Regions from separate parts of the Homo sapiens genome. Here region 2 is linked to region 1. The links come from fine-mapping of genetic effects on gene expression. A gene starts in region 1. The other region holds a variant in brackets. All regions are shown on one strand. Distances are from middle to middle.

Region 1 (4,399 bases):
AGACTGTTACGTCAGGGGGCATTGCCCCATGGCTCCAAAATTTCCCTCGAGCGAAAGCATCAGGGGCTCATGCAACCTGGATACTAGTGCTGCTTCAACCACACTGTGCTATTGGATGAGTCACTTCCACCCTCCTAGCCTTGATTTCTTCGTCTGCTGTTCACATTCAAATAGCTATTCATGTCTTCATCTCTGTGGTCCCACCATATCCCACCAGACAATCATTAGGGCTCCTCTTAGCTGGCAGATTCTGAGGTCCTGGATGCTACAATTGGAAGATGGAGAAGTAGAAGCTCAAGGTTTCTGACCTGTATCCCAAGTCCCAGAAGCAGAATGGACTAACTCAGAGCTGATGCTCGGGTCCCTTGCATATCTCCCTTCCTGTCACTGGCTTTGATCCTCCTTCGTTCAGCTTGTAATCACATCAACAGACCAAAGACATCTCTGTGTTCTGTCAGGAGAGTTCACAGAGCCACCAACCCTCCAGACCCTGCTGGTTGCCGCATAAAGACTCTGAGGAAGGGTTTGAGGCTGCTGTGATCATGCAATGAATGCATGATTGTACCACTGCACTCCAGCCTGGGGGATAAAGGTAGATCCTGTCTAGGAGAGAGAGAGAGAGAAAGAGAAAGAGAGAGAGAAGGGAGGGAGAGACAAAGAAAAAGAGAGAGAGGGAGGGAGAAAGAAAGAGAGAAAGAAAAGAGAAAAGAAAGAAAAAGAAAGAAAGAGAGAGAGGGAGGGAGGGAGAGAGAAAGAAAGAAAGAAAGAGAAAGAGAGAAAGAGAGAAAGAGAAAGAAAGGAAGAAAGAAAGAAAGAAAGAAAGAAAGAAAGAAAGAAAGAAAGAAAAGAAAAGAAAGAAAGAGAGAGAGAAAGAAAAAGAAAGAGGAAGGAAGGAAGGAAGGAAGAAAGACAGGCTCTGAGGAAGGTGGCAGTTCCTACAACGGGAGAACCAGTGGTTAATTTGCAAAGTGGATCCTGTGGAGGCAAAACAGAGGAGTCCCCTAGGCCACCCAGACAGGGCTTTTAGCTATCTGCAGGACCAGACACCAAATTTCAGGAGGGCTCAGTGTTAGGAATGGATTATGGCTTATCAAATTCACAGGAAACTAACATGTTGAACAGCTTTTAGATTTCCTGTGGAAAATATAACTTACTAAAGATGGAGTTCTTGTGACTGACTCCTGATATCAAGATACTGGGAGCCAAATTAAAAATCAGAAGGCTGCTTGGAGAGCAAGTCCATGAAATGCTCTTTTTCCCACAGTAGAACCTATTTCCCTCGTGTCTCAAATACTTGCACAGAGGCTCACTCCCTTGGATAATGCAGAGCGAGCACGATACCTGGCACATACTAATTTGAATAAAAATGCTGTCAAATTCCCATTCACCCATTCAAGCAGCAAACTCTACCACCTGAATGTACATGCCAGGCACTGTGCTAGACTTGGCTCAAAAAGATTTCAGTTTCCTGGAGGAACCAGGAGGAGCAAGGTTTCAACTCAGTGCTATAAGAAGTGTTACAGGCTGGACACGGTGGCTCACGCCTGTAATCCCAACACTTTGGGAGGCCGAGGCGGGCAGATCACAAGGTCAGGAGATCGAGACCATCCTGGCTAACATGGTGAAACCCTGTCTCTACTAAAAATACAAAAAATTAGCCGGGCGTGGCGGCAGGTGCCTGTAGTCCCAGCTGCTGGGGAGGCTGAGGCAGGAGAATGGTGTGAACCCGGGAGGCGGAACTTGCAGGGGGCCGAGATCGTGCCACTGCACTCCAGCCTGGGCGACAGAGTGAGACTCTGTCTCAAAAAAAAAAAAAAAGTGTTATGATGCAGACCTGTCAAAGAGGCAAAGGAGGGTGTTCCTACACTCCAGGCACTGTTCATAACCTGGACTCTCATTCATTCTACAAATGGAGGGCTCCCCTGGGCAGTACCCTGGAGCAGGCACTTTGCTGGTGTCTCGGTTAAAGAGAAACTGATAACTCTTGGTTGGTATTACCAAGAGATAGAGTCTCAGATGGATATTCTTACAGAAACAATATTCCACTTTTCAGAGTTCACCAAAAAATCATTTTAGGCAGAGCTCATCTGGCATTGATCTGGTTCATCCATGAGATTGGCTAGGGTAACAGCACCTGGTCTTGCAGGGTTGTGTGAGCTTATCTCCAGGGTTGCCCCAACTCCGTCAGGAGCCTGAACCCTGCATACCGTATGTTCTCTGCCCCAGCCAAGAAAGGTCAATTTTCTCCTCAGAGGCTCCTGCAATTGACAGAGAGCTCCTGAGGCAGAGAACAGCACCCAAGGTAGAGACCCACACCCTCAATACAGACAGGGAGGGCTATTGGCCCTTCATTGTACCCATTTATCCATCTGTAAGTGGGAAGATTCCTAAACTTAAGTACAAAGAAGTGAATGAAGAAAAGTATGTGCATGTATAAATCTGTGTGTCTTCCACTTTGTCCCACATATACTAAATTTAAACATTCTTCTAACGTGGGAAAATCCAGTATTTTAATGTGGACATCAACTGCACAACGATTGTCAGGAAAACAATGCATATTTGCATGGTGATACATTTGCAAAATGTGTCATAGTTTGCTACTCCTTGCCCTTCCATGAACCAGAGAATTATCTCAGTTTATTAGTCCCCTCCCCTAAGAAGCTTCCACCAATACTCTTTTCCCCTTTCCTTTAACTTGATTGTGAAATCAGGTATTCAACAGAGAAATTTCTCAGCCTCCTACTTCTGCTTTTGAAAGCCATAAAAACAGCGAGGGAGAAACTGGCAGATACCAAACCTCTTCGAGGCACAAGGCACAACAGGCTGCTCTGGGATTCTCTTCAGCCAATCTTCATTGCTCAAGTATGACTTTAATCTTCCTTACAACTAGGTGCTAAGGGAGTCTCTCTGTCTCTCTGCCTCTTTGTGTGTATGCATATTCTCTCTCTCTCTCTCTTTCTTTCTCTGTCTCTCCCTCTCCTTCCCTCTCTGCCTCCCTCTCTCAGCTTTTTGCAAAAATGCCAGGTGTAATATAATGCTTATGACTCGGGAAATATTCTGGGAATGGATACTGCTTATCTAACAGCTGACACCCTAAAGGTTAGTGTCAAAGCCTCTGCTCCAGCTCTCCTAGCCAATACATTGCTAGTTGGGGTTTGGTTTAGCAAATGCTTTTCTCTAGACCCAAAGGACTTCTCTTTCACACATTCATTCATTTACTCAGAGATCATTTCTTTGCATGACTGCCATGCACTGGATGCTGAGAGAAATCACACATGAACGTAGCCGTCATGGGGAAGTCACTCATTTTCTCCTTTTTACACAGGTGTCTGAAGCAGCCATGGCAGAAGTACCTGAGCTCGCCAGTGAAATGATGGCTTATTACAGGTCAGTGGAGACGCTGAGACCAGTAACATGAGCAGGTCTCCTCTTTCAAGAGTAGAGTGTTATCTGTGCTTGGAGACCAGATTTTTCCCCTAAATTGCCTCTTTCAGTGGCAAACAGGGTGCCAAGTAAATCTGATTTAAAGACTACTTTCCCATTACAAGTCCCTCCAGCCTTGGGACCTGGAGGCTATCCAGATGTGTTGTTGCAAGGGCTTCCTGCAGAGGCAAATGGGGAGAAAAGACTCCAAGCCCACAATACAAGGAATCCCTTTGCAAAGTGTGGCTTGGAGGGAGAGGGAGAGCTCAGATTTTAGCTGACTCTGCTGGGCTAGAGGTTAGGCCTCAAGATCCAACAGGGAGCACCCAGGGTGCCCACCTGCCAGGCCTAGAATCTGCCTTCTGGACTGTTCTGCGCATATCACTGTGAAACTTGCCAGGTGTTTCAGGCAGCTTTGAGAGGCAGGCTGTTTGCAGTTTCTTATGAACAGTCAAGTCTTGTACACAGGGAAGGAAAAATAAACCTGTTTAGAAGACATAATTGAGACATGTCCCTGTTTTTATTACAGTGGCAATGAGGATGACTTGTTCTTTGAAGCTGATGGCCCTAAACAGATGAAGGTAAGACTATGGGTTTAACTCCCAACCCAAGGAAGGGCTCTAACACAGGGAAAGCTCAAAGAAGGGAGTTCTGGGCCACTTTGATGCCATGGTATTTTGTTTTAGAAAGACTTTAACCTCTTCCAGTGAGACACAGGCTGCACCACTTGCTGACCTGGCCACTTGGTCATCATATCACCACAGTCACTCACTAACGTTGGTGGTGGTGGCCACACTTGGTGGTGACAGGGGAGGAGTAGTGATAATGTTTCCCATTTCATAGTAGGAAGACAACCAAGTCTTCAACATAAATTTGATTATCCTTTTAAGAGATGGATTCAGCCTATGCCAATCACTTGAGTTAAACTCTGAAACCAAGAGATGATCTTGAGAACTAACATATGTCTACCCCTTTT
Region 2 (4,399 bases), 140 kb after region 1:
AGCCTGAGCAACATAGGGAAATCACATATCTAAAACAATTTTTTAAATTAACCAGGCATGGTGACATATGCCTGTAGTCCCAGCTACTTGGGACACTGAGGTGAGAGGATTGCTTGAGCCCAGCAGGTCAAGGCTGCAGTGAGCAATGACTGTGCCTCTGCATTCCAGCCTGGGCAACAGAGTGAGACCCTGTCTAAAAGAAAAAAAAACCTGCACACCGAAGTTTACAGCACATTTAGTTATAATTGCCAAAACTTAGAGGCAACTAGGATATCCTACAATAGGTGAATGGATAAATAAACTGTGGTACATCAAGACAATGGAATATTACTGCTAAAAAGAAATTAGCTATCAAGCCATGGAAAGACGGGGAGGAAACTTCAATGCATATTACTATGTGAAACAAGCCAGCCGAAAAAGATACATACAGTATGATTCCAACTACATGACATTCTCAAAAGGCAAAACTATGGAGACAGCAGAAAAGTCAGTGGTTACCAAGGGTTGGGGGAAGGGAGGGGACAAACAGGCAGAGCACAGAGGATTTTGAGGACAGGAAACTATTCTGCATGATCCTATAATGGTGGATACATGTAATTATACATTTGTCAAAACCCATGGAATGTACAGCACCAAGAGCAAAGTCTAATGTAAACTATGAACTCTGGGTGACGAGGATGAGTCAGTGCAGGTGCATCGATTTTTAATATTTTGGTGGGGGATGTCCACAGTGTGGGAGGTTGTGCATGGGTGGGGAGAGGTGGATGGGAACTCTGCACCTTCTGCTCAGTTTTGCTGTGAAACTAAAACTGCTTTAAAAGATAAAGTTTATTAATTTTAAAACAGCAATGATTGATGGGGCACGGTGGCTCAGGCCTGCAATCCCAGCATTTTCGCTTTGTGCTAAGACCTACAAATTATGTAGCTGGCCCAGTCTGTAACAAGATCCATATAAGAATGCTAAAATTAGTGGGTAGAAGTGAGGTAGGAGGCAGGACTTGACTCCAGATGAGATTGAAGACTGGCTGAAACAGAGAAGAGGCACCAAAAATATCTTTCCATAAGACTCACCCACCAGTGCCATGACAGTTTACCATTGCCATGGCAACATCTGGAAGTTATGACTCCTTTTCTAGAAATTTCTGAATAACCCATCACTTAATTTGTATATAAAATACAGGCCAGTCATGGTGGCACATGCCTGTAATCCCAGCACTTTGGGAGGCTGAGGCGGGTGGATCACTTGAGGTCAGGAGTTCAAGACCAGCCTGGCCAACATGGTGAAATCCCATCTCTTCTAAAAACATAAAAAATTAGCCGGGCGTGGTGGCACATGCCTGTAGTCCCAGCTACTCAGGAGGCTGAGGCAAGAGAATCGCTTGAACCAGGGAGGCAGAGATCGCTCCACCGCACTCCAGCCTGGGCGACAGAGTGAGACTCTGTCAAAAAATAAAATAATAATGATAATAAATAAAGTACGTATAAGTATAACCGCAGAACTGCCCCTGAGCTGCTGCTCTGGGCACATTGCCTATGGGTAGCCGTGCTCCAGAAGAAGCAGTTCCTCTGCTGCTGCCCTTCACTACCGCATCTATAAAAGTTGCTGTCTCACACCACTGGCTCACTCTTGAATTCTTTCCTGAGCAAAGCCAAAAACCCCCTCTGGCTAATCTCCAATTTGGAGGCTCACTTGCCCTGCATCAGAAGCTTAAGAAAAATCAGGATATTTCAGTAGCTTCAAAGTACCTCCCCCAAAATACTTGTTAATTACAAGGGGGAAAATAGAAACTTTACAGTGGAGTAACCAGCTGGACACTGTCTTAGCCAAGCAATCAGAGTTAATATCATGTATCCTGACATGGTACACTGGTAGAAAAGCACATTACTTCTGCATTATTCTCCCCCCAAATCCATAACCTTCATATAACCATGAGAAAACATTGAATGGACTTATATTGAGGAAGATTCTACAAAATGCCCAACCATTACTGTTAAAAACTGTCCACGTCATGAAAAGCAAGAAAAGACTGAGAAACTGTGACAGATGGGAGATTCAGAGGATATCATTACTAAATCAAAACAGGATCCTAGATTGGATGCTGGACAGAAAAAGGACATTAGGTGGAATACTAGGGAAACCCAACTGAAATCTATGTATTAATTAACTCCACTGAGTCAATGTTACCTTTCTGACTGAAAGTCATTGTACCATAATTCTGGAGGACAGTAGGGGAAGCTGAAAGAAGGATTTAAGGGAACTCTCTGTACTATCTTTGTAACTCTTTGGGTCATAAATTATTTCAAAATTAAAAAAAAAAATTTAAGCAATCATAATTCAGAAGGCAGTGATGAAATACACCATAAGCAAAACCAAAAGCATGTGACACTGTGGGAAGAGGAACTTACAACTCGTAACACAGACAAGAGTGAATCTCCCTAATACATAAAGAGCTTTGAGAAAAACATCAATAACC[A/C]AATAAGAGAAAAATGAACAAACAATTCAAAGAAAAGGAAAACAACTGGCTCTTAAATGTATAAGATCATCAAAATCTCTCATAAAATAACTGCAAATTAACACTACAGATAATTTTCACCTATCACATTGGCAAAAATCCAACTAGTTGATAATATTCTCTGTTGGTGAGTCTGTGGAGAAAGAGGAACTTTCAAACATTATTCGTGGGAATGTAAATGGATGCAACCACTTCTGGAAGGCAATCTGACAGCATCTATCAAAATTAAGATAAATCAGCCAGGTGTGGTGGCTCATGCCTATAATTCCAGCACTCTGGGAGGCAGAGGCGGGAGGATCTTTTGAGCTCAAGAGTTTGAGACCAGCCCAGGCAACAGAGCAATACCCCATCTCTGCCAAAAATGTTTAAAATTAGTTGGCTGTGATGTAGTCCTAACTACTTGAGAAGCTGAGGTGGGAGGATTGCTTGGGCCCAGGAGTTTGAGGCCATAGTGAGCCACGATGGTGCCACCGCACTCCAGCCTGGGCAACACAGCAAGATACTGACTCTACAAAAAAAAAAAAAAAAAAAAAAGATCAATCCTTTCTTTGACCCATTCCACTTTTACACTTCAGATTGATTTGTACAAATCCAAAATGTCCACATATATAAGGCTGCTCATGGTAACACTGCTTATAACAGTAAAATAAGTAGCATATATCCATCAATAGAAGGCTGGTTAAATAAAGTTAAGGCCCCACAGTAATGCAATACTTTATACACATACGACTTTGAAAAGTGAGGTTACCAGGGACTGGGGGGAGAGGGAAACAGGGAAATGCTGGTCAAAAAGTACAAAGCTTCAGCTATTCAAGATGAACAAGTCCTAGAGATCTGCTGTACAGCATGGCACATATAATTAACAATACTGTATTGTATACTTAAAATGGTGTTAAGAGGACAGAGCTCATATTAAATGTCATTATCACACCCACAAAAAAAGAGGAAGAGAGAAAACTTTTAGATTTGATGGTTATGTTTATGGCTTTTTTATGGTGACAGTTTCATGGGTATATATTTATTTTCAACTCATCAAGATGTACAAACTGAATATGTACAGCTTTTTGGCATGTCAATCATACCTCAATTAAAAAAAAAAGAAGAATGAGGAAGCTTTCTATCTACTAGTAAGGAAAGACCTCCAAGATTTACCAACAACTGTGGGGGAAAAGTTTGCAGAACAAATAGTATCTACATTCTGCATGAAAAAAAAAAAGAAGGGAGTAACAACAACAACAAAAATAACCCCATTAAAAAGTAGGCAAGAGATATGAACAAACACTTCTCCAAAGAAGACATACACACGGAGCCAACAAACATATGAAAAAAATGCTCCACCCACTGATCATCAGAAAAATGGGAATCGAATCCATAATGAGATACCGTCTCACACCAGTCAGAATGGCTATTATTACAAAGTCAAAAAATTAAAAAAAAACCAGCTGATGAGGCTGTGGAGAAAATAAAAGGTTTAGACACTGTTAGTGGGAATGTAAATTAGTTTAATCACTGTGGAAAGTAATTTTGAGATTTCTCAAAGATCTTAAAGCTGAGCTTACCATTCAACCCAGCAGTCCCATTACTGGGTATATACCCAAAGGAAAACAATAGTTCTACCAAAAGACTCATGTACTTGTATGTTCATCAAAGTGCTATTCACAGTAGCAAAATCATGGATTGGTGCTCATCCATGGATTAGATAAAGAAAATGTGGTACCTCTACAGTATGGAATACTAAGCAGCCATAAAAAAGAGTGAAACACATCCTTTACAGCAACATGGATACAGTTGGAGAACATTATGCTAAGTGAATTAATGCAGGAACAGAAAACCAATGCCACATTTCCTCACTTGTAAGTGAGAGCTAACCATTGGATATACATGGA

Evidence for each region. PIP is the estimated chance that this variant, and not a neighbour inherited with it, causes the effect.
Region 2: its variant is the best candidate, but not a certain one, in a credible set for the expression of IL1B in whole blood (INTERVAL, PIP 0.68).

The regions. Positions count from the first base shown.
Region 1 is chr2:112,835,171-112,839,569 of GRCh38, reverse strand. IL1B (interleukin 1 beta) reads left to right here and starts at 2,791. Exons shown (of 7, transcript NM_000576.3): 1 at 2,791-2,862; 2 at 3,326-3,387; 3 at 3,953-4,004. The coding sequence starts at 3,341.
Region 2 is chr2:112,698,414-112,702,812 of GRCh38, reverse strand. No RefSeq gene overlaps it. Among named protein-coding and RNA genes, the nearest start is that of NT5DC4, 20 kb to the left of the region's middle. The variant A/C (reference allele first, on the strand shown) is at 2,475.